7 linked regions of the Homo sapiens genome follow. The protein of the gene in region 6 purifies or fractionates together with the protein of the main gene of each other region. This does not show direct contact. Each region holds a gene or a part of one and is shown on either strand. Other genes may lie near its edges.

What was found.
Region 1: the proteins of CPEB1 (region 6) and HNRNPUL1 purify together in Homo sapiens (affinity purification with mass spectrometry; one large-scale study listed by BioGRID and IntAct). This does not show direct contact.
Region 2: the proteins of CPEB1 (region 6) and MOV10 purify together in Homo sapiens (affinity purification with mass spectrometry; one large-scale study listed by BioGRID and IntAct). This does not show direct contact.
Region 3: the proteins of CPEB1 (region 6) and HNRNPR purify together in Homo sapiens (affinity purification with mass spectrometry; one large-scale study listed by BioGRID and IntAct). This does not show direct contact.
Region 4: the proteins of CPEB1 (region 6) and YBX3 purify together in Homo sapiens (affinity purification with mass spectrometry; one large-scale study listed by BioGRID and IntAct). This does not show direct contact.
Region 5: the proteins of CPEB1 (region 6) and DHX30 purify together in Homo sapiens (affinity purification with mass spectrometry; one large-scale study listed by BioGRID and IntAct). This does not show direct contact.
Region 7: the proteins of CPEB1 (region 6) and NMD3 purify together in Homo sapiens (affinity purification with mass spectrometry; 2 studies listed by BioGRID and IntAct, with this or other methods). This does not show direct contact.

Annotation. Positions count from the first base shown.
Region 1 is NC_000019.10:41,267,372-41,270,871, forward strand, and holds part of HNRNPUL1 (heterogeneous nuclear ribonucleoprotein U-like protein 1), read left to right. Parts: intron 1-851; coding exon 852-974; intron 975-3,500.
Region 2 is NC_000001.11:112,673,258-112,677,458, forward strand, and holds the start of MOV10 (helicase MOV-10), read left to right. Parts: upstream 1-1,401; 5' UTR 1,402-1,472; intron 1,473-1,480; exon of another isoform or gene 1,481-1,590; 5' UTR 1,591-1,655; coding exon 1,656-1,792; intron 1,793-2,233; exon of another isoform or gene 2,234-3,493; intron 3,494-4,201.
Region 3 is NC_000001.11:23,320,285-23,323,784, forward strand, and holds part of HNRNPR (heterogeneous nuclear ribonucleoprotein R), read right to left. Parts: intron 3,449-3,500; coding exon 3,272-3,448; intron 1,380-3,271; coding exon 1,244-1,379; intron 1-1,243. UniProt on the Homo sapiens protein: Component of ribonucleosomes, which are complexes of at least 20 other different heterogeneous nuclear ribonucleoproteins (hnRNP). hnRNP play an important role in processing of precursor mRNA in the nucleus.
Region 4 is NC_000012.12:10,706,324-10,709,823, forward strand, and holds part of YBX3 (Y-box-binding protein 3), read right to left. Parts: intron 1-3,500. UniProt on the Homo sapiens protein: Binds to the GM-CSF promoter. Seems to act as a repressor. Also binds to full-length mRNA and to short RNA sequences containing the consensus site 5'-UCCAUCA-3'. May have a role in translation repression.
Region 5 is NC_000003.12:47,837,638-47,841,137, forward strand, and holds part of DHX30 (ATP-dependent RNA helicase DHX30), read left to right. Parts: intron 1-3,239; coding exon 3,240-3,500.
Region 6 is NC_000015.10:82,546,364-82,549,863, forward strand, and holds part of CPEB1 (cytoplasmic polyadenylation element-binding protein 1), read right to left. Parts: intron 3,296-3,500; coding exon 3,097-3,295; intron 875-3,096; coding exon 780-874; intron 159-779; coding exon 78-158; intron 1-77.
Region 7 is NC_000003.12:161,238,311-161,241,810, reverse strand, and holds part of NMD3 (60S ribosomal export protein NMD3), read right to left. Parts: intron 3,082-3,500; coding exon 2,985-3,081; intron 766-2,984; coding exon 648-765; intron 1-647. UniProt on the Homo sapiens protein: Acts as an adapter for the XPO1/CRM1-mediated export of the 60S ribosomal subunit.

The sequences.
Region 1 (3,500 bases), on a different chromosome or scaffold from region 6:
TGGAGCCTGGAAGCAGCAGAATAGTTTGAAAGGGCCCCATATTCCAATTAAGGAGATAATGCTATTTCTTCCTCTCTCCCTTACTTGCTACAACAAAGTCCTTTGAGCCCCCTTCATGCCTCCCTTAAGCCCTCCTTCAACCTTGGTAAACAGACCGGTAGCAAACCACATGACCTGTGACTTTCCTCCCTTTGGGCTGCACCTGGTTTGTGCCCAGATGTATTTATCCTCTGAGAAGGAATCCGATCAGTTAGCAAGTGGCAGAATAGTCTCTCCTTCCCTTTGGTTCTGGCTCACGGCTCCTGGCATAGCCACTGGTAGGGCCCTTGGGGCCCTAACTGAGAGCTAGCCCCTGGGGAGGAGAGCCTGTATGCTGCCCATCCTAGCTTTCTAAAGTTCTCTCTGGGTTTGGCTGCAAGGTTCTTGAGGGAATTTCTGGTTTTAGTTCCACCTCTGAGCTTTCACACGTGTTATCCCAACCCCAGTAACATTCTCCATTCTCATCACTGAGTCATTACCTGTGTATCCTTTGAATCAAGGCTTATCTGTTATTTTCCAGGTCCCTTTCTTCATTCCTGGTACTACTTTGTAGCCTTCAACACAATCATATTAAATTTTTGTGTGTCTTTAAGATTTGTCTGTCTCACTAAACTGAAGGCTTCAGTGGGGCAAGCTTGTCTTCAGCTGTATCCCAGGCTCTGGAGTATAGTATGCATGCCATGAATAGTTAATATTATTATTCTTACCACTCTTAGTTGAGCTCCTGGACCTGCAGATGCCTTCTGGATGCTTTGGTCCAGGGTTCTTCATGAACCGCCCCTCTAATTGGCCATTTTTAATTTTGTTTTAAGATGCCATGGACAATATTACCAGGCAGAACCAATTCTACGATACCCAAGTCATCAAACAAGAAAACGAGTCAGGCTACGAGAGGAGACCACTGGAAATGGAGCAGCAGCAGGCCTATCGTCCAGGTAGGAAAATACACATGGTTCATCTCTTTGGATGGAAACAATCTACATGGAGCCTTTACCCCCTGCTTAGAGCGGGTCTTCCCAGAGAAACTGTGCATCTTTTTTCTTGGGCAGTTCATCTAAACATTGTCACTCTGGCAAGAATTGTTTAAAGGAAAGATCTCAGTCCTATTTCCAAGTGTTGGGAGAGGGGAGGTTCCATGGTATCTGTAAAAAAGTGATGTTAGTATCAGCCGGGTGTGGTGGCTCCCTCCTGTAATCCCAGCACTTTGGGAGGCCGAGGCAGGTGGATCACCTGAGGTCTGGAGTTCGAGACCAGCCTGGCCAATATGGTGAAACCCGTCTCTACTAAAAATACAAAAATTAGCCAGGCATGGTGGCAGGCACCTGTAATCCCAGCTACTTGGGAGGCTGAGGCAGGAGAATCACTTGAACCCAGGAGGCGGAGGTTGCAGTGAGCCGAGATCGCGTCATTGCACTTCACTCAGTCTGGGCAACAAGAGTGAAACTGCATCTCAAAAAAAAAAAGATGTTAGTATAAGCACCCTGGAGAGTTGAGACCCCTAGACTAATACTTGAATCTTATTTAGAATCTTAGAATGGGGGAGCCAGAAAGAGCCTTCTAAGTCTAATCTGGTATTTCTCATGTTCTGAAGATTATTGTTTCAGGGGATATTATTAGGGGATTCTCAGAAAAGGGTTCCTTAGCCAAATGTGTCTGGAAACTGTAGCATGTGCTATATCGTCTCTTGGAAATTCACTGTGCTTGTTAGAACATTAAAGGCTCTGAGAAGTCCAGAATTTAAAAAAAAAAAAAGAAAGTGTGTGTCAGGCCTCAGGCCAGGTGCGCTGGCTCATACCTATAATTCCAACACTTTGGGAGGCCAAGGTAGTAGGATCATTTGAGACCAGGAGTTCCAGACCAGACTGGGCAACATAGTGAGACCCCTTCTCTACAAAAAATTTAAAAATTAGCCAGGCATGGCTATGACTGACTACATGCACACACCTATAGTTAAAGCTACTCAGGAGACAAAGGTAGGAGGATCACTTGAGCCCAGGAGTTTGAGGCTGCTGTGAGCTATGATTACACTACTACACTCCAGCCTGGGTGACAGTGCAAGACCCTGTCACGAAAAAAAAAAAAAAAAAAAAAAACCTAAAATTAAAAGTAGGTTAGAACACAGTGGCTCATGCTTGTAATCCTAGCGCTTTAGGAGGCCAAGTCAGGAGGATCACTTGAGCCTAGGAATCCAAGACTAGCCTGGCAACATAGTGAGACCCCTGTTGTCTTTAGAAAAAATTAAAAATTGCCTGAGCATGGTGACATGCTTGTAGTCCCAGCTACTCAGAAGACTGAGTCAGGAGGATCACTTGAGCCCAGGAGTTCAAGGCTGCAGTAAGCTATGATCGTGCACGGCACTGCAGCCTGGGCGACAGGAAGACCTTGCCTTAAAAATAAAAACAGGCCGAGTGCGATGGCTGTTACATGCCTGTAATCCCAACACTTTGGGAGGCTGAGGTGGGAGGATTGCTTGAGTCCAGGAGTTCAAGACCAGCCTGGGCAACATAACCCTGTCTCTATAAAAAATAAAAATATTACCTGAGCATGGTTGCACAATCCTATAGCCCCAGCTACTCTTTTTTTTTTTTTGAGACGAAGTCTCGCTCTTGTTCCCCAGGCTGGAGGGCGATGGCGCGATCTCAGCTCACTGCAACCTCCGCCTCTCGGGTTCAAGCGATTCTCCTGCCTCAGCCTCCCAAGTAGCTGAGATTTCAGGCGCCTGCCACCACACCTGGCTAATTTTTGTATTTTCAGTAGTGACGGGGTTTTACCATGTTGGCCAGGCTGGTCTCAAACTCTTGACCTCAGGTGATCCGCCCGCCTCAGCCTCCCAAAGTTCTGGGGTTACAGGCGTGAGCCACTGAACCCGGCCAAGTCCCACCTACTCTGGACCCTGAGGTGGGAGGATCACTTGAGCTAGGAAGTTGAGGCTCCATGAGCCATGATGGCAGCACTGCATTCCAGCCTGGGCAACAGTAAGCCTCTGTCTCCAAAAAAATTTTTTTTTTAATTAAATTTAAAAACCTTGTGTCTTCTTGGGCTGGTGTTGCTGAAAATATTTTTTTTAATAAAAAAATAGACAAAAAACCTTGTGTTGTATCGTTTAAACTTAGGATTTCCCAATCATGTTAAGTATATGTCTTTACAGAACAAAGTTCCCCATGATGCCAACTCTCCCTTCCCTTTTTTTTTTTTTTTTTTTTGAGATGGAGTCTCGCTCTGTTGCCCAGGCTGGAGTACAATGGTGTGATCTTGGCTCACTGCAACCTCTGCCTCCCAGGTTCAAGTGATTCTCCTGCCTCAGCCTCCTAAGTAGTTGGGACTACGGGCGTGCCACCACACCCAGCTAATTTTTTGTGTGTTTTTAGTAGATGTGGGGTTTCACCATGTTGGCCAGGATGGTCTCAATCTCCTGACCTCATGATCTGCCTGCCTCGGCCTCCCAGAGTGCTGGGATTACA
Region 2 (4,201 bases), on a different chromosome or scaffold from region 6:
ACATAGCATCACACTTTTTACCCAAGGTTTTACTATACTGCAGACTTTTGTGTACGTTTTGAGAACATCCAAGACATAAACCTGACCAGAGAAGAAGGGAGATTGTATCCAAGAATAATAGGGATTTAGATTTGCTGGTCAGAATGGAGCCAGACATTCAGTTTGAGTACGGTTGATGGTACGTTTTTGAGATGGTAAGTAACAAGGCAATTTTTAAGAGTTCACCCTCTCTATTCTTCTGGAACCTCATCAGGACATTGAGGGAGAAAAAAGGTAAAATCTTTGGCTGCTTTTCTAGTTTTTTCTTCTACTTTGCATAATAAGTTTGTAAGATGTTTTCCTCTGCCCTATTTTACCCATCCCCGTAGCTTTGGTTCCCACTGACATTGCATTTCCTGTTGCTAAAGCCTGTTATTCCTGGCTTCATTTGGTTGTTGGCCTGAGAGAAGGTACCGGGTAGCCCAGCTGGAGTATGACCTGGGTTCTGGACTTTCTTCAATTCCGTAGATTGAGTGTGTGGCCTCCTGCTGGTAGCTACTATGGAGAACAACACTAGCTTTGATTTATTTGAAAGTGATGTATTTGATTTAAAACTTTGTAGTGTAACTTAGCTTGTCCCATTCTAGTGTGTGTGTCATTTCATTCTGCGGGAAAAAAATAGATACAAAGGTTTGTTATTGTAGCCCCACCCCCTTAAATTTGTCTATACAGTCTTCTGAAGCACACTGCCCTTTTAGTTCTCTTCTTGGTACTGATGCTGTCACTATTAACCACTTATTATTGCCTAACACAACAGTCCCTTACGCTCAAGATGCTAGTATTTTGATGAATATAAGGGTCCACCTTATATACCAGTAAAAATTAAAGAGCAATACAGACTGGAATGCAACGAAGCGCCCAAATATGTGGCTCAGGGGTAAGGGTCGGTCACCAGCCTTTCCACATAAGCCGATGTGGCAGAGAAAAGCAATTACTGTGTATCCTGGCAGAGCCCCTTGTCCCTCCCTCCCACACGTACACACCTTTATCTCAGAGACACTGGGTTCTTTTCCCCAAACTTCTTTGACCCTTATGCCAACTACGTGCGTCTGAAAGCCCGAGAAGGGAAAATGGGGGAGGGGGCGTGTCGCCCCGAGTTTACGTCCCTGGAAGGCTGGGGGAGGCGCTGGATGAGCTTCCCCATTCCGGCCGCAGCCGACCTAGATCCCAGCCCTGCCCTTTGCTCTCCTGCTTTTCACTGAGTCCCGAGGCTCTGGAGGGTGGGCGTGAGGGTAGCCCTGGCTGAGGCTCGGAGGTCCTCCCGGGCTGTTCAGAGGGCCCCAAGCGGTAGCCACGTTCTGATACTGGCTAGAAGCCAGGGGAGGGAGCTTGGGGTAAGGGGAGGGCCCTGAGGGAGGGGTCAGACGCTTTAGGAAAGAGTTAATGCGAAGAGGGGGAGGGGATAGGACGAAGAAACCGAAGGGAAAGCTCAGGTAAGAAAAGAACGGAGGAGGGAAGCCTGGTGGGGAGAAGGGAGCCCGCAGGATCAGGGGTCAGAGTTAGGGGGCTTCCCTCCTGCTGCACCCTCATCTCAGGGCCGCCAACTTCCAGCTGCAGCGGCGACTTTCAGTTTCATTTCCACGGACCCTCCTGCCTGGGCCGCAGCCGCCGCCGCGATGCCCAGTAAGTTCAGCTGCCGGCAGCTCCGGGAGGCGGGCCAGTGTTTCGAGAGTTTCCTGGTCGTTCGGGGACTGGACATGGAGACAGATCGCGAGCGGCTGCGGACCATTTATAACCGCGACTTCAAGATCAGGTACGGGCCGGCCCACTCCCGGCCCCGAATCGCGGGCCCAGCTTGCTGCCACGACCCCCGCGCGAGGGCCACCTTTCCCGCCCCGGGGCGCAGAGGGACGCAGCTCCCCCAGCGGCTCAGGCCAGTCCCGGGGCGGCGCAGACCTCCCCTCCCGCGCCTCGCCCACGCCCCACCAGCGCCGCCCGGAGCCCGCCAGTTCTGCCCGAGCTGGGCCCCTGCGCCAAGTCGCCGCGGAGAGCCTCCCGCGCTGCCCGCGCCCCCGGAGGCCGGAACCCGGGGCCGGGAGCTGCGTCCCGCGTCCATGCGCCGCTCGCGGGGGCTGAGGGACAGCGCTCGCGGTGGGGGAGGGGAGCCTCCAGAGGGGGCCCAGGCATCGCGGGAGCGCGGGTTAGAGGCTGCCTGTTGGGGGCTGCGAGCCCGAGCGCGGGCTTTACAGGGACCTCTGCCACCTTGTTGAGGCGCTGCTGCCTCGGGGGTCCGCTATCTGGGAGAACTGAAGAGGCCCAGGGTAGAAGGGAGAAGCTCAGGAAGCTCTGGAAAGAAGAAAAGGGCACAAACTACGTGCGTACCAAACCTCCATTAGCACCTGTGGCTTCTCCATGGAGACCCAGGGGCAGAGCCAGCCTTCTGGAGGCTCCCTTTCACCCTGTGGCTGAAGGCTCTTTGGTCTCCTTTTCCTGCTACCACCCAAGTGAAAATCAAAGAGTCTTCTGTCACACCACAGAATTGTGCTTCAAAAACACGTTTATCAACAGGCTGCTGCCTTGCGTGGAAAACCAAGAAGCAGTTTAACAAGGGTAAACGTAAAGACTTGTACAAATAAACATAAGGTAGTGGGAATCTGGGCTTAATAACAGACCTCCCGAAAAAGACCTTGGGTTTTAGCAGACCAGAGGGCCAGTATGGGTGAGATATGGCTGCTAAAACAGCTGAAGTCTAAGATTGAGCTAACAGAAGTGTGATTTGGGGTGGGGGAAAAGGGTAGAGACTCTCCATATTGGTGAAATCGTGTCTGGAATATCGTTTTCACTAATGGTTATCACATTTGGAGAGGGATATTAACAGGCTTGAACAACATCTGAGAAGGGGCAAAGATGATGAGGCCCTGTTTTATGTCACCATGCTGGACACTATGGGGACTCTTAAGATGAAAAACACACAATCCCAGAGGAGCATCAGAGGCTATGATATGCATGCAATATACATGTACACAATATAGGATAGTACATGGTAAAATGGAGGATTATACTAGGGATGGTAAGAGAAAAATGCTGGAGGAAAGAGCGAGCATTTGCATCACATGGTATCAACACTTAAGGTATGTGAATTCACCTATATCCACAGAGTACAACATGGCTAGGAAACAAGTCACCTACTTCTTTTGGCTCTGTTAAGGAAAAAGTAATTGGTTAAAACAGTAAGGCTGACTTGACTCAAGGCTATGGTAATAGGGTATTGCAATAGGAAAGAAGAGAGTTGGAGCTCAATTCCGAATACAGCAAAAACAGCGGGGGATTTATGACCAATGAACAGAGTAAGGGGATCAATATATAGAAAATTACTAAGAGGAGTCATAAAGAGTGGGAGGATTTTTGCTCACCTGACCTAACAAGATTCTTGTTAAAGGCAGACCAAGGACTTGTACATCAAAGGCGGGAATGAGGAACTTGATCAGATATCAAGCGTGGTCATGCATCAAGGGTGAGGAGTCTCACTAAAATGACTTCAGTATTCTTGCTAAAACTGAACTAGGTGGGCCTAAGACTGAAGGGTTTGGGGAGGCAAGGTCAAGGGCTAGTCAAAAAGAGGGCTCAGGGGAGTCTAACAAAAGTTTGATCAAGGAGAGTCTTTGTCAGCTCTAAACCAAAGGTACATAGTATGTTTTAGTACTGGGGAAAAACTGGTTGTGTTGGATTGCATACAGAAAGCCAGATATACTGTATATTATGGGTGAATGTAGGCATTTTCCAAAGTAGTTTTTACTGTATGCACTTGTGTTTATGCAGATAAGATACCACTCCTCTGTAATCATTAGGGGATGTGATGGAGAAGATGGCATTGACTTTAGCCTTGAAAGAGATAAAATTTTAGTACATAGAGGAGGTGGAAAGGCCTTCTATGTGGGTTCATATTCTATCCTGAGACCCAGTGAAAGAAACTCAGAAATATTTGCCTCAAAAATAGAAAAATCAGACAGTACAAGGTAATTATCCTTGACTATTTTGGAGTGTTATAATGGATAAGATTGCACTCCTGTGTCACTCCAGAAGACAGAAGCGGGTTTCATCAACTATCCCCGCTCTGTACCCTCATCATGTTGGGGAAATGTATGTTCAGATTAAAGAACTTGCCTACACATCCTTTAAAGCCAGGCTGGAATGCTGTGAAGTCAACCTTCATTTCCCAGTA
Region 3 (3,500 bases), on a different chromosome or scaffold from region 6:
CAATATAGCGGGTGGTAGCAGTGGTTACAAAGTGGGACGCTAGAAATCAAGAGTTCAGAGTGCATAGAATTTCTGGTGACTAGATCCAGAATGTAATCTGGATATGGTGGAGCTGAAGTAAAGGACTAAAGATGAGGTAGACATAGAAGTAGGTAGGAGTCTAAAGCCCTGGATGGTTCACCAATGTAGATGTTAAAGGTATTAGAAAGAAGCCAATTTAGGGCAGAAGAGGAAGACAGTGAGCCAGAAGCAATCTTTAGATTAATGAAAGGCTGAAACCACAAGAGCAACGAATGACAGCTTCAACAAAAGGGAAAGGATATGTCTGGATGATAAAAATGTAAAGAAACAGTGGTTTTTACAAGGGGAGGCAGCGGTCTAACGCAGTGTTTTTAAATCATAGGTAGTATTAGATCACAATTGGCATTTTAAAAAATGAAATAGAATAAGAAATATCAAAATAAATCATGTATAATAAATAAAAGTACAGTTTTGTTAAATTGTTTCAGTTATATATAAATGTGTATAGAACTGTGATATAAAATCTACTTCTCAATCAATTCCATGGATTTAGAATTGGATATTTAAAAAAATCTGATCAGCCAGGCACTGTGGCTCACGCCTGTAATCCCAGCACTTTGGGAGGCCGAGGCGGGAGGATCACCAGAGGTCGGGAGTTCTAGACTAGCCTGACCAACATAGAGAAACCCCGTCTCTACTAAAAATACAAAATTAGCCAGGCGTGGTGGCACATGCTAGTCCCAGCTACTCGGGAGGCTGAGGCAGGAGAATTGCTTGAACCAAGGAGGCGGAGGTTGCAGTGAGCCGAGATCGTACCATTGCACTCCAGCCTAGGCAACAAGAGCGAAACTCCGTCTCAAAAAAAAAAAAAATCTGATCTAGACAAGGCAGCAGGGAGAGAGTAAAAACTTTCATCCTCTTGGTCCTAAAATACACTAATTGTCAAGGGGAAAAAAAGCATTCACTTGAGGGCTATAGAGCAAAAGCTCCAGCAAAAGCCAAGGTTCAATTAAGACAAAGAAGTGAAGGGGACATTCCAAGAAATGAAGGATATAAGGGAACTTGCTTAAACCCAAACCACTATAAAGCAGAAAGGAAGCAATTTAGATACTTCAGACCTGAATTCTTAATTTAATACATACAACCCCTCAGTTTTTTTGAGCACTTGTAAGTAGTACAACATATTTCGCAAAAGTAATTTCTAAATACATTTTTGTTTTACCTGTGACTTTACTGAATTCTTCCAAAATGTTTTCTTTAGTCTTATTCTTCGGAATGGATCCAACAAAAAGTCTGTTGTTTGCCACAGAAATGCACACTCCAAGGTGTTTACCAGGGCGAATTTCATAGCTGTCACACTGCAATAAGAAAAGAACCAGAGACCCCAAAACCACCCCAAACTCAGGACAATTGATCTTAATCTAAAAAATTCAACAATTTAAGGCCAAACGCTCCCTGCTTCATCAACTCACCAAGTTCCCTCATGCTTTCCATAATATGAATGTATATTTTAAACTTCATTGTTACAGTCTCTTGTTTTAGTTTGGTTTTGTTAACCTTCACTACTCTTCCATATAAAAAGGACTCACTTTATTGTTTAAAATATCTTATTTCATATTTTAATTTTATCTATCTGAAAATGTTTTTCCACAGATTTTTCAGAAAAAAATACCTGAGACTGATCATTCAGGGTCCTTGGAAATGTAATTGCATATAGGTAAGCCATACTCAAAATAACAATATGTAAAGGGTAACAACTATGTTTAATCAATGCAAAGATATTAGAAAAATTTCAAATTCTACAGAAGTCACAGAATTCTAAATATATAGTTTTAAATTGTCTACCAAACACAATACTTTCAAAATTTTATAAAATTTTGAAAAATGTTTTATTTAAATCACTATAGTGGATTTTCTTGATAAATTGTAGCCCTTTTTTTTTTTTCTTAAGATGGAGTCTCGCTCTGTCATCCAAGCTGGAGGGCAGTAGCATGATCTTTGCTCACTGCAACCTCCACCTCCTGGGTTGAAGTGATTCTCCTGCCTCAGCCTCCCAAGTAGCTGGGACTACAGGCGTGCGCCACCACGCCCAGCTAATTTTTGTATTTTTAGTAAAGACAGGGTTTCACCACGTTGGCCAGGCTGATCTTGAACTCCTGACCTCAGGTGATCTGCCTGCCTCAGCCTCCCAAAGTGCTGGGATTACAGGCGTGAGCCACCACACCTGGCCAATTTTAGCTTCTTATACTTTAATATTATTTAACCATTAGTTTACTAAGAGATATGATTATTAAAAATAAAATCATCCATATGCTGCCAAAAATGAAAACTTAATATTAAATAAACAAGTTTGAAGAAAAAATCCATAATAAAAACTAAAATCTGGGTCAAGCTAGGAGTGGAACTAATTCAGACACCAGTAATGAAACCAAAGCCTTGATGAAAGAAGTTGACCATTCTACAAAGGCTAGAACTAGACTTAGTGAGGTCCTCAGAAGTCAGGCAAGGGTATGCCAAAAAATAATTACATTGTTATTTTAAGATACTGAGATAGCTGTGTCTTAAATACAGCAGGAGTGAAGATACATTTGATTTGCAGAACTTTGTTGCTACTACTACTGGTCTGAAATGAGCACCAAGTGGTTAAAGGCCCTAGAGAAAGGAAATTAATATGAGACTGGCTATAAATAGTAGGAGAGGAGAGAAAGATTAAAGACAGAGAAGACTCAAGGGCCAAGAAACATACAGGAAGAACAAAAATACACTTAGAAAATATGAAATAAATCGTATGAGTAGGCTGTAACCAAAATAAAACAGATTCACAACTATTTTCTGAATTGAATCCTAAGTCACTGTCATCCACTATTATGTTCCCCACAGCCCATTCCAGTCTTCATTATACTTTAAGAATCCTAAAGTTTAACATCAAGAATTGACATCCTTTTGCCTAAAACCAAAAGACAGAAATGCATAAGCCAAATACTCATATGAAACTTCTGATATCAATCTAATAGATAACTTCTTAAATCAATGGGAGACTTTCTATAAAACATTACTTTTTGGGTATTTTCAGTTCTTTTTTACTTTTATAGTCAGAGAAAAATAAACGTCACATACCAACTTGGTCAGTATAAAAACATTCCAAGCAACAACTGAAGAAATCAAAATAATGTTAACTACAAACATTTTTGAATTAAAGTTTATTTCCTCAAATAGTGACTTGCTAAGACAGTGGATAATTATCACATACCAGTTTCACGGCTTCCTGTGCAGCTTCCTTTCCACAGAAGGTGATAAATGCATACCCTCTATTCTGACCGGACAGTGGATCCATCATAAGACGTAGATCCCAAATGGGTCCGGCCTTCTCAAAAAGGGGCACCAACTCATCCTCATATAAATCCCTTGGTATTTTGCCTACAAATACCTGAAATAAAACCCCCTTATTAGAATCCAACATAAGCATTTGATTTTAGAGC
Region 4 (3,500 bases), on a different chromosome or scaffold from region 6:
TTTCTTTACAGACATACATACTAAAGAAAAACCAAACACCATGACCACCACTACAGAAACCTCAATGGGGAATATGTCTCCTCTTCCCGCCCTTTGCTGTTTCTTAAGTTCATTCTATTTAAACTTTTGTCTTCACCAAACCACTGACCTCCAAGTTACCAAATCTAATAATCAATTCTCAGCTTAATCTCTACTTATCAACAAGCATTTAACACATTTCTTTCTTGAAATACATTCTCCTTGGCTGCTCCTTCTCACTGTCCTTTGCTAGACAATCCTCATCTTCCTAATCTTTAATCGTTGGTGTGTCCCAGAACTTGATCCTAGGACCCTATTTCCACCTACACTCACTTTATAGTTAATATCATCCTGCCCCTACGGCTTTAAACATCCTGTTTTATAACTCCAAATCAGCCAGGAGCGGTGGCTCACGCCTGTAATCCCAGCACTTTGGGAGGCCAAGGCAGGTGGATCACAAAGTCAGGAGATTGAGACCATCCTGGCTAACACAGTGAAACCTCGTTTCTACTAAAAATACAAAAAATTAGCCAGGCGTGGTGGCGGGTGCCTGTAGTCCCAGCTACTCAGGAGGCTGAGGCAGGAGAATGGCATGAACCCAGGAGATGGAGCTTGCAGTGAGCCGAGATCGTGTCACTGCACTCCAGCCTGGGTGACAGAGTGAGACTCCATCTCAAAAAATAAATAAATAAATAAATAAATAAATAATTCCAAATAATTATTTGCAGTTCCATTTCTCCCCTTCAGACTCCCATTCACGCCTTTCCTGGGACCTGATGGACTTGATCCCTTGCTCCATTTAGGTCTCTTCTCAAATACAACTTAATGAACTCCCAAAAATGTTGTCAACCACTGTATCTAAGACTACACCTTCCATCCTCCAGCCACTTTCTACCTCTTCCCTCTGCTTTATTTCTTCTGCCTACTTAACACCTCCACTTGTACGTGAATTTAATATGAGAAAAAGACCTCCAAAGAATTTTCACCTTTCCCTCCAAACCCAATCTTTCTTCAGTATTCCCGTATTTGTTTAAATCAAAACTGCAGAGGTATTATTTACTCCTCATACAATATATTACCATTCCTCATACTCTTCACTCAATCCATCATGAAATGCCAACACCTCTATATGCTTAAAACATTTTCCAAATCTAACCATTTAATCAGACCTTCCACTGCCAGCTTCTCTAATACAACCCATGTTCATTTCTCTACTGAAAAGATTATAGCAGCTGTTCTCCCTGCTTTTATACTCTTACCTCCTGTGGTCTAGTCCCAACAAAACAGTCCAATAATCTCTTCAATGTTTCTTTTCTGTTGAGATCCCTTTACTGGCTTCTCATCACATTTACAGTAGGTCAAGTCTTTACAGTGGTCTACCAGCATGTCTGACCTCCCCTGAGATCTCACCTCATACCCTCTCCCCCTTCATTCACATCATCCCCATCACATGAGCCTCTCTTTAGTTTCCTAAGTAAGCTCGGCCATTTCTTCCTCAGAAACTGTTGAGTCACAAAAAAAGACTGACAGAAACAGCAATTAACGTGTATAAAGGATGAGAGTCTGCCAGAAAGACTGGATGACAAGAACAAAATGAATTAAAATTAAGTTCTACCACTTCTTGTCCATGTAAAATAAAAGTTGCTGATTTTTAAAAGTAATCAAATTCCTTCATTTGTGACAACAACAAAAAATATGGAAACCACTGCTTCCCTCAGGCTCTAGAGACAACTAAAGTAAGAACCGATTCCAAATATCTGTCACCTGGTAGATGCCACAATGTTGCTCCCTTCCCTCCATCATATAATTATTTTCTCAAAGACAACAAGCACATAGTAGCTCAGTGAATGATTCTACTTAATTTTCAAATCTATAGAACTATTTTCTTTAAAAATGGAAGTTATTCAGTCACTAATAAATCATGCTATATTATGTCCTTAGTGCATAAGGCAAATACCACTGGCCTATATATTCCTATTTTTTTTTTCTATTATGCCCAATAAATTTCATAGCGTTGTAATAGTAGAAAACGTTGGCGAAGACTTTTATATTTGATCTCAATAATTTTTACTATCCTAGAGATCCATCTATATATTTTTAAGAGAACACACTGACAACCTTGAAGTAGCTTAGTTATATGGATGAGAGCTTTAGGAATTTTCTTTTGATGCTCTTGACTGGCTTAACCAGACTACTTAGTCAGAGAGCTAGTAGATATTATAAAGATTATTAAAAAATATGGTTTAAAGGATCAAGACAACTTTTACTTCTGACATGGAATAGGTAGGAAAGTCAGCCATTCAGTCAATTAACTAAATGCAGTTAAGTTACAGGAATAAGCGTACATGTTCAAAAGCAGCTTTCGATCAGCTTCTGCATATGATGTTTTACGTGGCACTAAGGAACGACTTTGCTCTGAAACTTCAATTCCTAAGGTGAAATACATTTTATTTCAAAAGATATGAAAAAGAATCATCATGCTTTCAGCAAACGTGATATATGTTGTATAAGCCAAACACTAAGGAGGAGTATTTCAGGAAAGCACTATTAAGACGCTAAAAATAAGTGCATATTACAATCTCACTGACTTTTCCTGTCCTTGTTTCCTAGAAGCCCAGAGTGCTGCCCTAAAGCTACTATGTCTCATGTACCCAATCTCTCCATATATGTAAGTCTACTTGTTATTTTTAGCACATTTGTCAGGGGCAGCTGTTGAAGAGTAGAAGGAAAAAAACAAGAAAGAACACAGTCATGCATGATGGGACAGGAGAAGGGTAGCAAAGAACAGACTGAACATAATGTTCGGTCAAAACATCTAGCGGTGAGGGGAAAAAAAAGAAACCCCAACGACACTGAGGAGAAAAAAGTTGTGGCTACTGATAACAAAAATGATGATCTATCCCTAGTTTTCCAAGTTCCCTAGGAACTGCAAAATTGATGTAAGGTTTATTAAGCACAAAACAAACTCAAAACAGCTGTACTAATATTCTGCAGTGAAAAAGGAGAATCAATAATCAACAACCTCCATTCTGGTAGGTTGCCTTTAAAAATCAGCACTGTCTCATTTAAAACCAATACTTTAAAAATGTTATTTATGCTGCAGGCATCTCTTTTGCTAAATCCTTTATATTTAATCATCATAACCCTATGGTGCAGGCATTTAATGCCCCCACTTAATGGATGAACTTAATCTAAAACTTGGTTTTCTCAAAACCTCACAAATAAGTAGCAGAAACAGGATTCAAATCCAGCCTGACTTCAGAGTCCAAGCTCTTACACATTCCACCTGTCTTGTTACCTTAATTCTTTTGTTCTTCTATCAACTAGAAACTTTGGCCATAAGGGTTCCCTATTATAGGCATGGATCACGTGGTTTTGCTTTTAGAAGTGTTACCGGAATGACTGCTTTGAAAAAACAGACTGAAGGCCTTGCCTCAGCTTTTGTAGCATCAGGAAGCCATAAGCAAGGTTTCTGGCAGCTG
Region 5 (3,500 bases), on a different chromosome or scaffold from region 6:
GTAATCCCAGCTACACAGGAAGCTGAGGCAGGAGAATCGCTTGAACCTGGCAGGCAGAGGTTGCAGTGAGCCGAGATGATGCCATTGCACTCCAGCCTGGGTGACAGAGTGAGACTCTGTCTCTAAAAAGGAACAACAACAAAAAGGTATTAGAGAAGTTGCACGGACAGCTCCTGGACAGTTGAGGAGGTGGGAGGGAGAATGGGTTGGAGGGGCAGCATGCGCCAGCAGGGGGAGCTGTGGACGAGCAATGGGTTGGCGCCTAGGTTATGGCAAGAACAGTGGCTGGTGGATGTTGGTACAGCTCAGGACCGGTGTGGGAGCATGGCCAGGACCAGCAGTGAGCCTGTGGGGACGAGATCCTCTGGTCTAGTGAAAGAGTGGTTGCAAAGGCAGGGGGAGAACGGTGCTGTCCTGCTGGGGAAGCCAGGCCAAGGAGGGATGCTTGTATTGCTGCTCTGTGGAACCAGAGGCATTCTTGTCAGAAGGGAGGCGGTGACGCAAAAGTGTGGCAGCTGAGCCTTGGATCGGGCCCTGCCCCAAGGGTTCGCGAATGTGTGTGTGGCATACCTTGGCCCCATCGTCTGTCCCATAATCCTGCGGTTTTCACGCGTCTATTCTTAATAGACAGACTTTAGAATTGGTTTGTCAAATGCTTAATAAGAAGCCTCTGCAGACTTTGATTGGAATTGTGTTCAATTTATGGATTAATTTAAGAGGTTTTTGTCTCCTCACACATAAAAGTTCTATCATCCAGGAACATATATCTCCATGGATTTACATCCTTTTGCCAAGTTGTGTGCTTAGTCCATACCTTTCTGACCCACCTTAGTTCACCTTAGGTAGGTGATGGTTTTTGTTACTGTTGTGAATAGAATTTTTAAAATTAAATTTAATTATCTCAAAAACCCAAGGAGAAAGTTTTATGAAGGCAGGCCATGGTCACTCTCCAGCTTGTCATGAGTTGGGTGGGATTGAAAGCTCACTGTAGAGAGGTTCCTGGCCCGTGGCCCGTGCTGTCTGCTGTCACATGGCCCTGATGTTCACCTGACAGGCCTTGTTCTTGCTGTCCCGCAGACTTTGTCGCCTTTACCACTCCCAGTGGCAGCTCCTGCAACCTGTGCTTTCTTTGCAGTTGCTCCTGTTCTCCCAGCTGCTCACTCATCTCACCCACGTCTTTGTTCCTTAGACCCTGGCCATCTGCATTTCTCTTCTGCTGCTTAGATTCCTTGTTTGTTTGTTTGTTTGTTTTTGGAGATAGGGTCTTGCTCTGTCACCCAGGCTGGAGTTCAGTGGTGTGATCATGGCTCACTGCAGCCTCGATCTGTAGGCCTCAAGTGATCCTCTTGCCTCAGCCTCCCAAGTCTCTGGGACTACAGGCACATACCACCACCCCTGGCTAACTGCCTCTTATATTCCGAACTGCTTGAGGGCAAGGACCAGGTCTTGTCTCTCCTGATGATGCTTAGGTGGCCAACATGTTGCTGCGTACATGCTAGAGACTTAGGCAATGTTTAATTTATATTTTCTGTAGAAAAGCATGAAGCTATAACACATTTAAAATCATATTTTTGTATAAATAGCTTTAACATTTCAAGTTATTTCTCTAGAATGTATTCCTAACATAGGATTCTTATATTCTCTTTTTTTTTTTTTTTTTTTTGAGACGGAGTTTCGCCGGAGGTTTGCTCTTGTTACCCAGGCTGGAGTGCAATGGTGCGATCTCAGCTCACCGCAACCTCTGCCTCCCAGGTTCAAGTGATTCTCCTGCCTCAGCCTCCCAAGTAGCTGGAATTACAGGCATGCACCACCATGCCCAGCTGATTTTGTGTTTTTAGTAGAGACGGGGTTTCTCCATATTGGTCAGGCTGGTCTCAAACTCCTGACCTCAGGTGATCCGCCCACCTCGGCCTCCCAAAGTGCTGGGATTACATGCGTGAGCCACCGTGCCCAGCCTTCAGGATTCTTATATTCTTATATATAACTTCTTATAACAGAAGTTGTATCCGTTTCATGGTGTGGGCTACATAGGTTTTTTTGTTTGTTTGTTTGTTTGTTTTTTTGTGGAGTCTCTATTGCCCAGGCTGGAGTGCAGCAGCCCCATCTCAGCTCACTGCAACCACTGCCTCCCAGGTTCAAGCGATTCTCCTGTCTCAGCCCCCTGAGTAGCTGAGATTACAGGTGCCCACCACCACGCCCGGCTAATTTTTGTATTTTTAGGAGGATGGGGTTTCGCCATGTTGGCCAGGCTGGTCTCCAACTCCTGACCTCGAGTAGTCCACCTGCCTGGGCCTCCCAGAGTTCTGGGATTACAGGTGTGAGCCACTGTGCCCGTCTGGCTACGTATTTTTTTTTCTTTTCTTTTCTTTTTTTTTTTGAGACGGAATCTTGCTCTGTCGCCCAGGTTGGAGTGCAGTGCCATGATCTTGGCTCACTGCAAGCTCCGCCTCCCAGGTTCACGCCATTCTCCTGCCTCAGCCTCCCAAGTAGCTGGGACTACAGGCACTCGCCACCACGCCTGGCTAATTTTTTTGTATTTTTAGTAGAGACAGGGTTTCACCGTGTTGGCCAGGATGGTCTCGATCTCCTGACGTCATGATCCGCCCGTCTCGGCCTCCCAAAGTGCTGGGATTACAGGTGTGAGCCACCGCACCCGGCCCTACGTACTTTTTAATTGCTGTATTTACTGAAGCTTCCTAGATCATTATGTGAATGTATCTTCTTGGGCTTGGTGCGGTGGCTCATGTCTGTAATCCTAGCACTTTGGGAGGCCAAGGCGGGCGGATCTGTTGGGTCCAGGAGTTCAAGACCATCCTGGGCAACATGGTGAAGCCCTGTTGCTACAAAAATTCGCTGGGCGTTGTGGTGCATGCCTTTAGTCCCAGTTACTTTGGAAGTTGAGGTGGGAGGGTCACCTGAGCCCAGGAGGCAGAGGTTGTAGTGAGCCGTGATTGTGCCACTGCACTCCAGTCTGGGTGACAGAGCGAGACCCTGTGTCAAAAAAACAAAAAACAAACAGTATCTTCTGCTCACCCATTGCCATGTGGGGTTATTTGTTTGCATCAAAGCTAGGCATCTTTGAGAGTTCCATGCCCAGTTCTGGACTAGGGGCTGAAGTGGGTAAACAGATGAAAAACCACGGCTGCACAACACAACTTAACGGTGTAGCTGGACACGGACCAGGCCGACTGAGGTGTAAAGATGGTATCAATCCTTAAAACGTCCCTTTTCCCCTCCAGGGTTGGGGTCTGCTAGGTCCCCGGAATGAGTTGTTTGACGCAGCCAAATACCGAGTGCTAGCTGATCGCTTTGGCTCCCCTGCCGACAGCTGGTGGCGTCCGGAACCCACCATGCCCCCTACTTCCTGGCGGCAGCTGAATCCAGAGAGTATTCGACCAGGGGGACCTGGGGGCCTATCCCGCTCTTTAGGCCGGGAAGAAGAGGAGGACGAGGAGGAAGAGCTAGAAGAAGGGACCATAGATGTTACCGACTTCTTGTCC
Region 6 (3,500 bases):
GGATTACAGGTGTGAACCACCGCGCCCAGCCAACAATTTTTAATAGAGGGCAGGGACTTCATAGACATCGGACCCACCTGATCTCGACAGAAGAAAGGACCAGGCTGAGAACTGCAGATATGACACAGAGAATCTTCTAGGTAGGGGTCAATCTGAACCTGCACAAAGGCAAAATAAGATGATGAAGTGGCTCTTCTTACCAGGAGGCTCGATAGGCGATAGAAGAAGGGCACATTATTGGCCACACACAGGAATGCGGGATATTGGAATGCAGGATATTTGCCTGTTTTAAAGGAGGCTTGGAGAGAATTATGGGCCTGAAGTACAGAAAGGAGTTCTAGAGGACAGACTCATACACCATGCACAGTCAGGCTGGATGCCTCTGGGATTCAGGCAACCACACACCTTAATGCCTGGTCTTCTAGGCAAACTGTACCTCAGCCCTCTATCAATTAGCAGTATAGGCAAGTGTTCGGAGGATTCCCAAAAGGTTGGAAAATAGGAAGTCAGGCTACTGAGCAATGCCAAAGAAATACCACAGTGAGGGAAGGCACCCTACACACTGAAGAGGCTCAACAGTCCCAGTTCCCTTCCTCCTGGGCGTACAAAGACCAAGCCCACTCCCAAACCCTAACCTCAATGTTAATTCTCAGGAATTTGGCTCACTTCCCTAAACACACCCAGCACAAACAGCTTCAGGTCTCAGGCCTGCCCTGGGTAGTAACTGCCCAAACCCCTCTCATATACCCCAGAGTAAGGGCATAAACCAGCCAACTCACCTTCTTTGTGAACTTGGTGGTTTTGATCTCCACAAAAGCAGCGCTGACTGCTTTCAGGTAACTCCGTTGGTTATTGAAAGTCACACGACCAGAACCTAGGACAACAGACACAAGCTTCCCTTCTAACCAAATTCTCCCAAATGCTACTTTTTTTTTTTTTTTTTTTTTTTTTGAGATGGAGTCTCGCTCTTTCGCCCAGGCTGGTGTGCAGTGGCGCAATCTCTGCTCACTGCAAGCTCTGCCTCCCGGTTTCACGCCATTCTCCTGCCTCAGCCTCCCGAGTAGCTGGGACTACAGGCATCTGCCACCACACCCAGCTAATTTTTTGTATTTTTAGTAGAGATCGGGTTTCACCATTAGCCAGCATGGTCTTGATCTCCTGACCTTGTGACCCGCCCGCCTCAGCCTCCCAAAGTGCTGGGATTACAGGCGTGAGCCACCGAGCCTGCCCTAATGCTACTCTTTTAAAATGCAGGAAACCCTTTACGATACTAGTGCTGTCCGACAGAAATATAATGTGAGCTACTATGTAACTTTATTTATTTTTTGAGACAGGGTCTCCCTCTGTCACTCAGGCTGGAGTGTAATGGCGTGATCTCAGCTCACTGCAACCTCTGCATCCCAGGCTCAAACAATCTCCTGCCTCAGCCTCCCAAGTAGCTGGGACTACAAGCATGAGCCACCATGCCTGGCTAATTTTTGTATTTTTTTGTAGAGACAGGGTTTCACCATATTGTCCAGGCTGGTCTTGAACTCCTGGACTCAAACGATCTGCCCCACCTCGGCCTCCCAAAGTGCCAGGATTATAGGTATAAGCCATCATGGTCAGCCCTTATGTAACTTTAAATTTTCTAGTAGTCACACTGAAATTTTAAAACAGTGGTGACATTAATTTTAATAATATATTTTATTGGCCGGGCACGGTGGCTCACACCTGTAAACCCAGTGCTTTGGGAGGCCAAGGTGGGCGGATCATGAGGTCAAGAGATGGAGACCATCCTGGCTAACATGGTGAAACCCCGTCTCTACTAAAAATACAAAAATTAGCTGAGCGTGGTGGCGCACACCTGTAGTCCCAGCTACTCAGGAGGCTGAGGCAGGAGAATCACTTGAACCCAGGAGGCAGAGGTTGCAGTGAGCTGAGATAGCACCACTGCACTCCAGCACGGCAACAGAGTGAGACTCCATCTCAAAAAAAAAATTTTATTTAACCCTATATGTTAATAATATTATTTCCAAATGTGACAACAGCTGTGTTTCCAAAACTCAATGGGGCCACATTTAGCTGGTAGCTACCATATTCGTACCATATTTGACAGTGGAGATCATGTTAGCGTGAACCATTCAGGAATGGGGGAAGAATTTGCAGATCAAGATGGGAAGGAAAGATAAGGGACTCCTTCAGTGCAGGTAGAGCATAGGTTAAGGTTAAAGGATTCAGAGTGGAAGCCAAGATGCAGATAGAACACTTGTCTGAAGGGTAAGCCCAGCAGTTGAACTGAACCTCTCCTAGCCCTTAGGCACTCTGGAGACCTATTAAGAGAGCTGGAAGAAGCCCCATCCTGCCAAGTTCCTCCTCCGCTCCTGGGGCTTCTGAAGTCCCTGTTCTCAATCTGCTGCACAGTATTGGTGAGTACATGGTGCTCCTTCCTGACCAGATTCAGTGTGGGTGTGAAGACTAAGCATTTGGGGAGGTGGGTTAGCCACATGTTAATCACAGAGGTCAGGCTCTGCTCCACCTCCATACCTCATCATTGACATTTTGCCAGGACTGGCGAATTGACCTCCTTTCTCAGAGGAGCTGATCAAAACCTAGTGGTTAGGCCCACAGACTTCTGAGTTAGGAAAGCACAGGCCACACTCTGTTGCCTGACTCACTCAGAAAGTCCTCCTCCAGCCTGACCTGGTCTCTGACCTTAGACAATGCCAGAGCTTTTCAAGAACTTTTAATAAAAAACTCCAGGCAAGTTCAGAGAATTGCAGCCTTTTCATGAAATAGTACCTGTTGTCTGTTCCAAACTGGTTTCGCTGTGAACTCTGAGCTTCCAACAAAGTTCCTACCTCACTCTCACTTCTTATCACCTCCTGTAGTCTCCAATAGCTTTTTCTCCCACTGCGTGGGAGATGGTGGGTAGAGGGCTAGATACAGAAGGGCCAGTACTCGTGACTTGTCTAGAAAAAGATATTATGGTGCTGGTATATGCTGATCTGCAGACCTGGGTCAGGCCTCTCTCCTCACTCCCATGGGGAAGTATCACAATCTTGGTCTACTCCCAGGGGCCAACCAAGCTTTCGCACACAGAAGTGGGACACTTACCAATGGGATACTTGTGCTTATCTGTGTCAATCCCGGCATACACCACTCCACCAAATAGGTCGTTCAAGATGGCTGCCAGGGCCTCAGCATTTAGCATTCCATGCAGAGCACCGACAAACACCGTCCTGCTGGGGTCAAGCCTCTGAGATGGGCTCCGGACAAAGTTACTGTCGGCTAATACCCAGGGGATCACCTGCACCTGAAAACCACCCAAAGGTGTATCAGCCCTGGCAGAGAGCCACAGAGAGAGAGGTGCTTGCACGGCAAGGTACGTGCTCTGGAGATACTGAAGCTAAGCTAACGCCCTTACAGGGGTGAAAAGGTGCTGTTGCCCAATCTCAGGCACACAGGCGTCCAATAAACCACCCTGACTCCACCCCAACTGGAGTTGAATTTTACTGAGT
Region 7 (3,500 bases), on a different chromosome or scaffold from region 6:
CAAAATTTAAAATAACTGCTAGACACCAAATTTTGGCAATGGACTTAAGTAAATAGTCACAAAAATTAAATGAGGTAAATAAGTCAATTTCAGGCTGGACATGGTGGCTCACGCTTGTAATCCCAGCACCTTGGGAGGCCGAGGCGGGCAGATCACGAGGTCAGGAGTTCAAGACCAGCCTGGCCAACACAGTGAAACCCCGTCTCTACTAAAAATACAAAAATTAGCTGGGCATGGTGGCAGGCACCTGTAATCCCAGCTACTTGGGAAGCTGCAGCAGGAGAATAGCTTGAACCTGGGAGGCGGAGGTTGCAGTGAGCTGAGATTGCGCCACTGCACACCAGCCTGGGCAATAGAGCCAGACTCCATCTCAAAAAAAAAAAAAAAAAAGTCAATTTCAGTAAAAATTAATGGAATAAACCAGTAAATATGTAAAAATTAACAGAATTGTTTCTTTAAATAAAAAATACAAAAGTAACTAATCAAAGCTTGCAAATTCCACAATGTTTTGTATTAAACAATAGCACAAATTTTAACTAACCTTTCAAAACAATATTAGCAAGAATGCTTGAAAAATTAACAACACAAATTATTATTGTTTGTCATACAAAACAAAATTGTCAAGGCAAATCATTTCCAGAATTTACCTTGTAGGGTGTTTGGATCAATGAGGTGAATGGCACTGGTTACTCGAATACACACACAAATCTGGTTCATATTTCCCAGGCTTTGTGCCAGTTTTGGAGACAGACAGACAACATTATCCTAGGCATAAGAACTAACATTTAGAATGAGGCATATCCTAAATAACAGTCCAATAAACACTCATCAATAAACACCCAATCCAATTGCATTTGACCAACCAAAACGTTATTTTCAATTCTATCAATCAACAAAGAGACTAAAGAAAAGAATCAGACCTTAAGTATGACAGGCATCTTGTCTTAATAAAAATGCTTTAAAAAAAAAAAAATCCTGGCTGAGCACGCTGGCTCACTCCTGTAATTCCAGCAATCTGGGAGGACAAGGTGGGAGAATCCCTTGAGCCCAGGAGTTCAAGTCTAACCTGGACAACATATGGAGACCCTGTCTCCATATACATATATATATATATTTTAATTAGCCAAACGTGGTGGTGCATGCCTGTGGGCCTAGCTACTTGGGAGGCTGAGGTGGAATGACAGCCTGGGCCCAGGAGGTCGAGGCTTCAGTGAGTTAAGGTGGTGCCACTGCACTCTAGCCTAGGTGACAGAGCAAAACTGTCTCTCAAAAAAAAAAAAAAAATCCAGGGCCCAAATCACCAAGCTATTATTATTTCCATTTTATTGCAGTGTGAATGCCTCTTATCACTCTATATGTTAATACAGTGTACATTCTAAACAGAGTATTATAAACATTAGCAGGAGAGTGATTCTATAAATCCACCTGTGACTTCTTTCAATCTCCATTAAAAAATAAACTTCAAAGGAACACATTTCTCTTACATGGCTACATGTGCCAATATACAATCAAAGATTTAAGCCCAAAAAAGTCACATGTCTACATTTATATTGGGAGACATGAAGCAGCAACGTAATTATCTGTTTTTAAACTGAATTAAAATACAAAAAAGATCTGAGTTATATTTTAAGGTGTATCTATTCACAATCATAACAGCTCTTAGTTCAGTCCTTGGTTTTTAATACATGAGTTTCCAAAGATAAACAAATATACTTTTTTACATAGTTTAATACATATGTTAATTTTTACATGTGTAAAACTCAGTTACACAAGGCCTAAATATGCCCTCACACCTAAATTCATATTTCTCAAGATTTGTACCAGGGAAACATTTACTGTTTTAAACCAGAGGTTGGCAAAATGCCACCCTCAGGACAAATCTGACCCACCATCTGTTTTTGTAAATAAAGTTTTACCAGAACACGGCCCTGACATTCCTTTACATATTACCCATGCTACTTTTGTACAACAGCAAAGCTGAGTAGCTGCAAAAGAGATTATACGACCTGAAAGTTAAAAAATTTACCATCTGTCTCTTTACAGAGAAAGTTTGCTGACCCTATTTTAAGCTATCATTTCATCCCTAGTACATACTATAAAATAGCAATAGCAGTTTTAAAGCTTTGGAGACACAGACCTGGGTGCAAATCCTAGCTTCATCATTTTGTGATCATGTAACTTTGGGCAAGTTATCTAACCTCCTCAAACTTCAATTTCCTCATCGTCAAAATGATATGGCTTACCTCAGTTATTATGAGATGAGAATGAGGTGAAAGACACTAAAGTATCTAGATTAACTTTATGTAGAATGGTCACAATAATGGCAGTTATCATTCTTAGTGATTTAATACTGACATATAAATTCTTACATGGCAGAGACCTGTAGTTATACAATCCTCAGTACACAGCCTTCTATACTATAGATACTCAATAACTATTTATTGAATTTTAATTCATATTTTTCTGAAGCAGAGTTTTATCTTAGTACAATTAAATGAAATAATCTACATTTTAAATGTTTTATTCAGCTTATGTTTTAAAATCATAAAAATGATTCTATGATCTCATTTTCACATTATCACAATATTCTTTCATTTCTTGCCAAAATTTTGTTTGTACATATTCCACAAAGTGGCTCACTAATATTGATTTTAATGTCATTTCTTTTATTCAATTTCACTGAACTATATGATACAGGCTCATAGGATCACAAATTTCAAAGAATACGGACTTTTATCAACTATAACCAGGTCTTTTCATTTTAATACACCAAAATAAAAGGCATGTCAATTCATAATTATAAGCATGACTTTTTTAAAAATATATATCTTTTAACATGGCTGAATGTGTTAGAAGTCACTTAAGGAACTTATTCTAAATTTTTAACCAACCCTAGAGGAAAACCAGGAGCTACAAATTACATATAAGCCAATTAATTACTTGTACTCTTTTACAGATATGGATTAAATGAAAAAGAAAAGTACCTTGCATATTGGAACAATTTCCACAGAAAAAGTGCTTTTGTAATTGTATGTGTTACTATGGATATCTTGAGAGATCAGTCTTTGTGATGCTTTGTATCTATTAAGAAAAAAGTTAGTAGTAATATAAAGACAAAGATCATTAACCTGTATGGACTCAGGAATATCAATTTTCATTAAATCAAACCATCATTGTCCAAGGTCTAAAATGGCTTCATGATGCCTCCTCTGGTAAAACCTACTGTCCTGCACTTGCATGTCAAAACCTTCACCATTCTAACTAAGCCCTACCTATTTTGAACCTTTTCCACCAAACCTCTAGAACATGCTGTTGGCTCAGACCAATCTACTTTCTATATAGCATTATTAAAAGCCATACTAACGCCCACTGCAAATCTTTGTTCACACTAATAGTACCTTTCAATATAAACTCCAGCTATGAAAATTTCCCGATCTTTGGAGCACAAGTCCTACCACCTCTGTGAGTGGGTGGTTAACCCAATATATGCTTCCTGATTG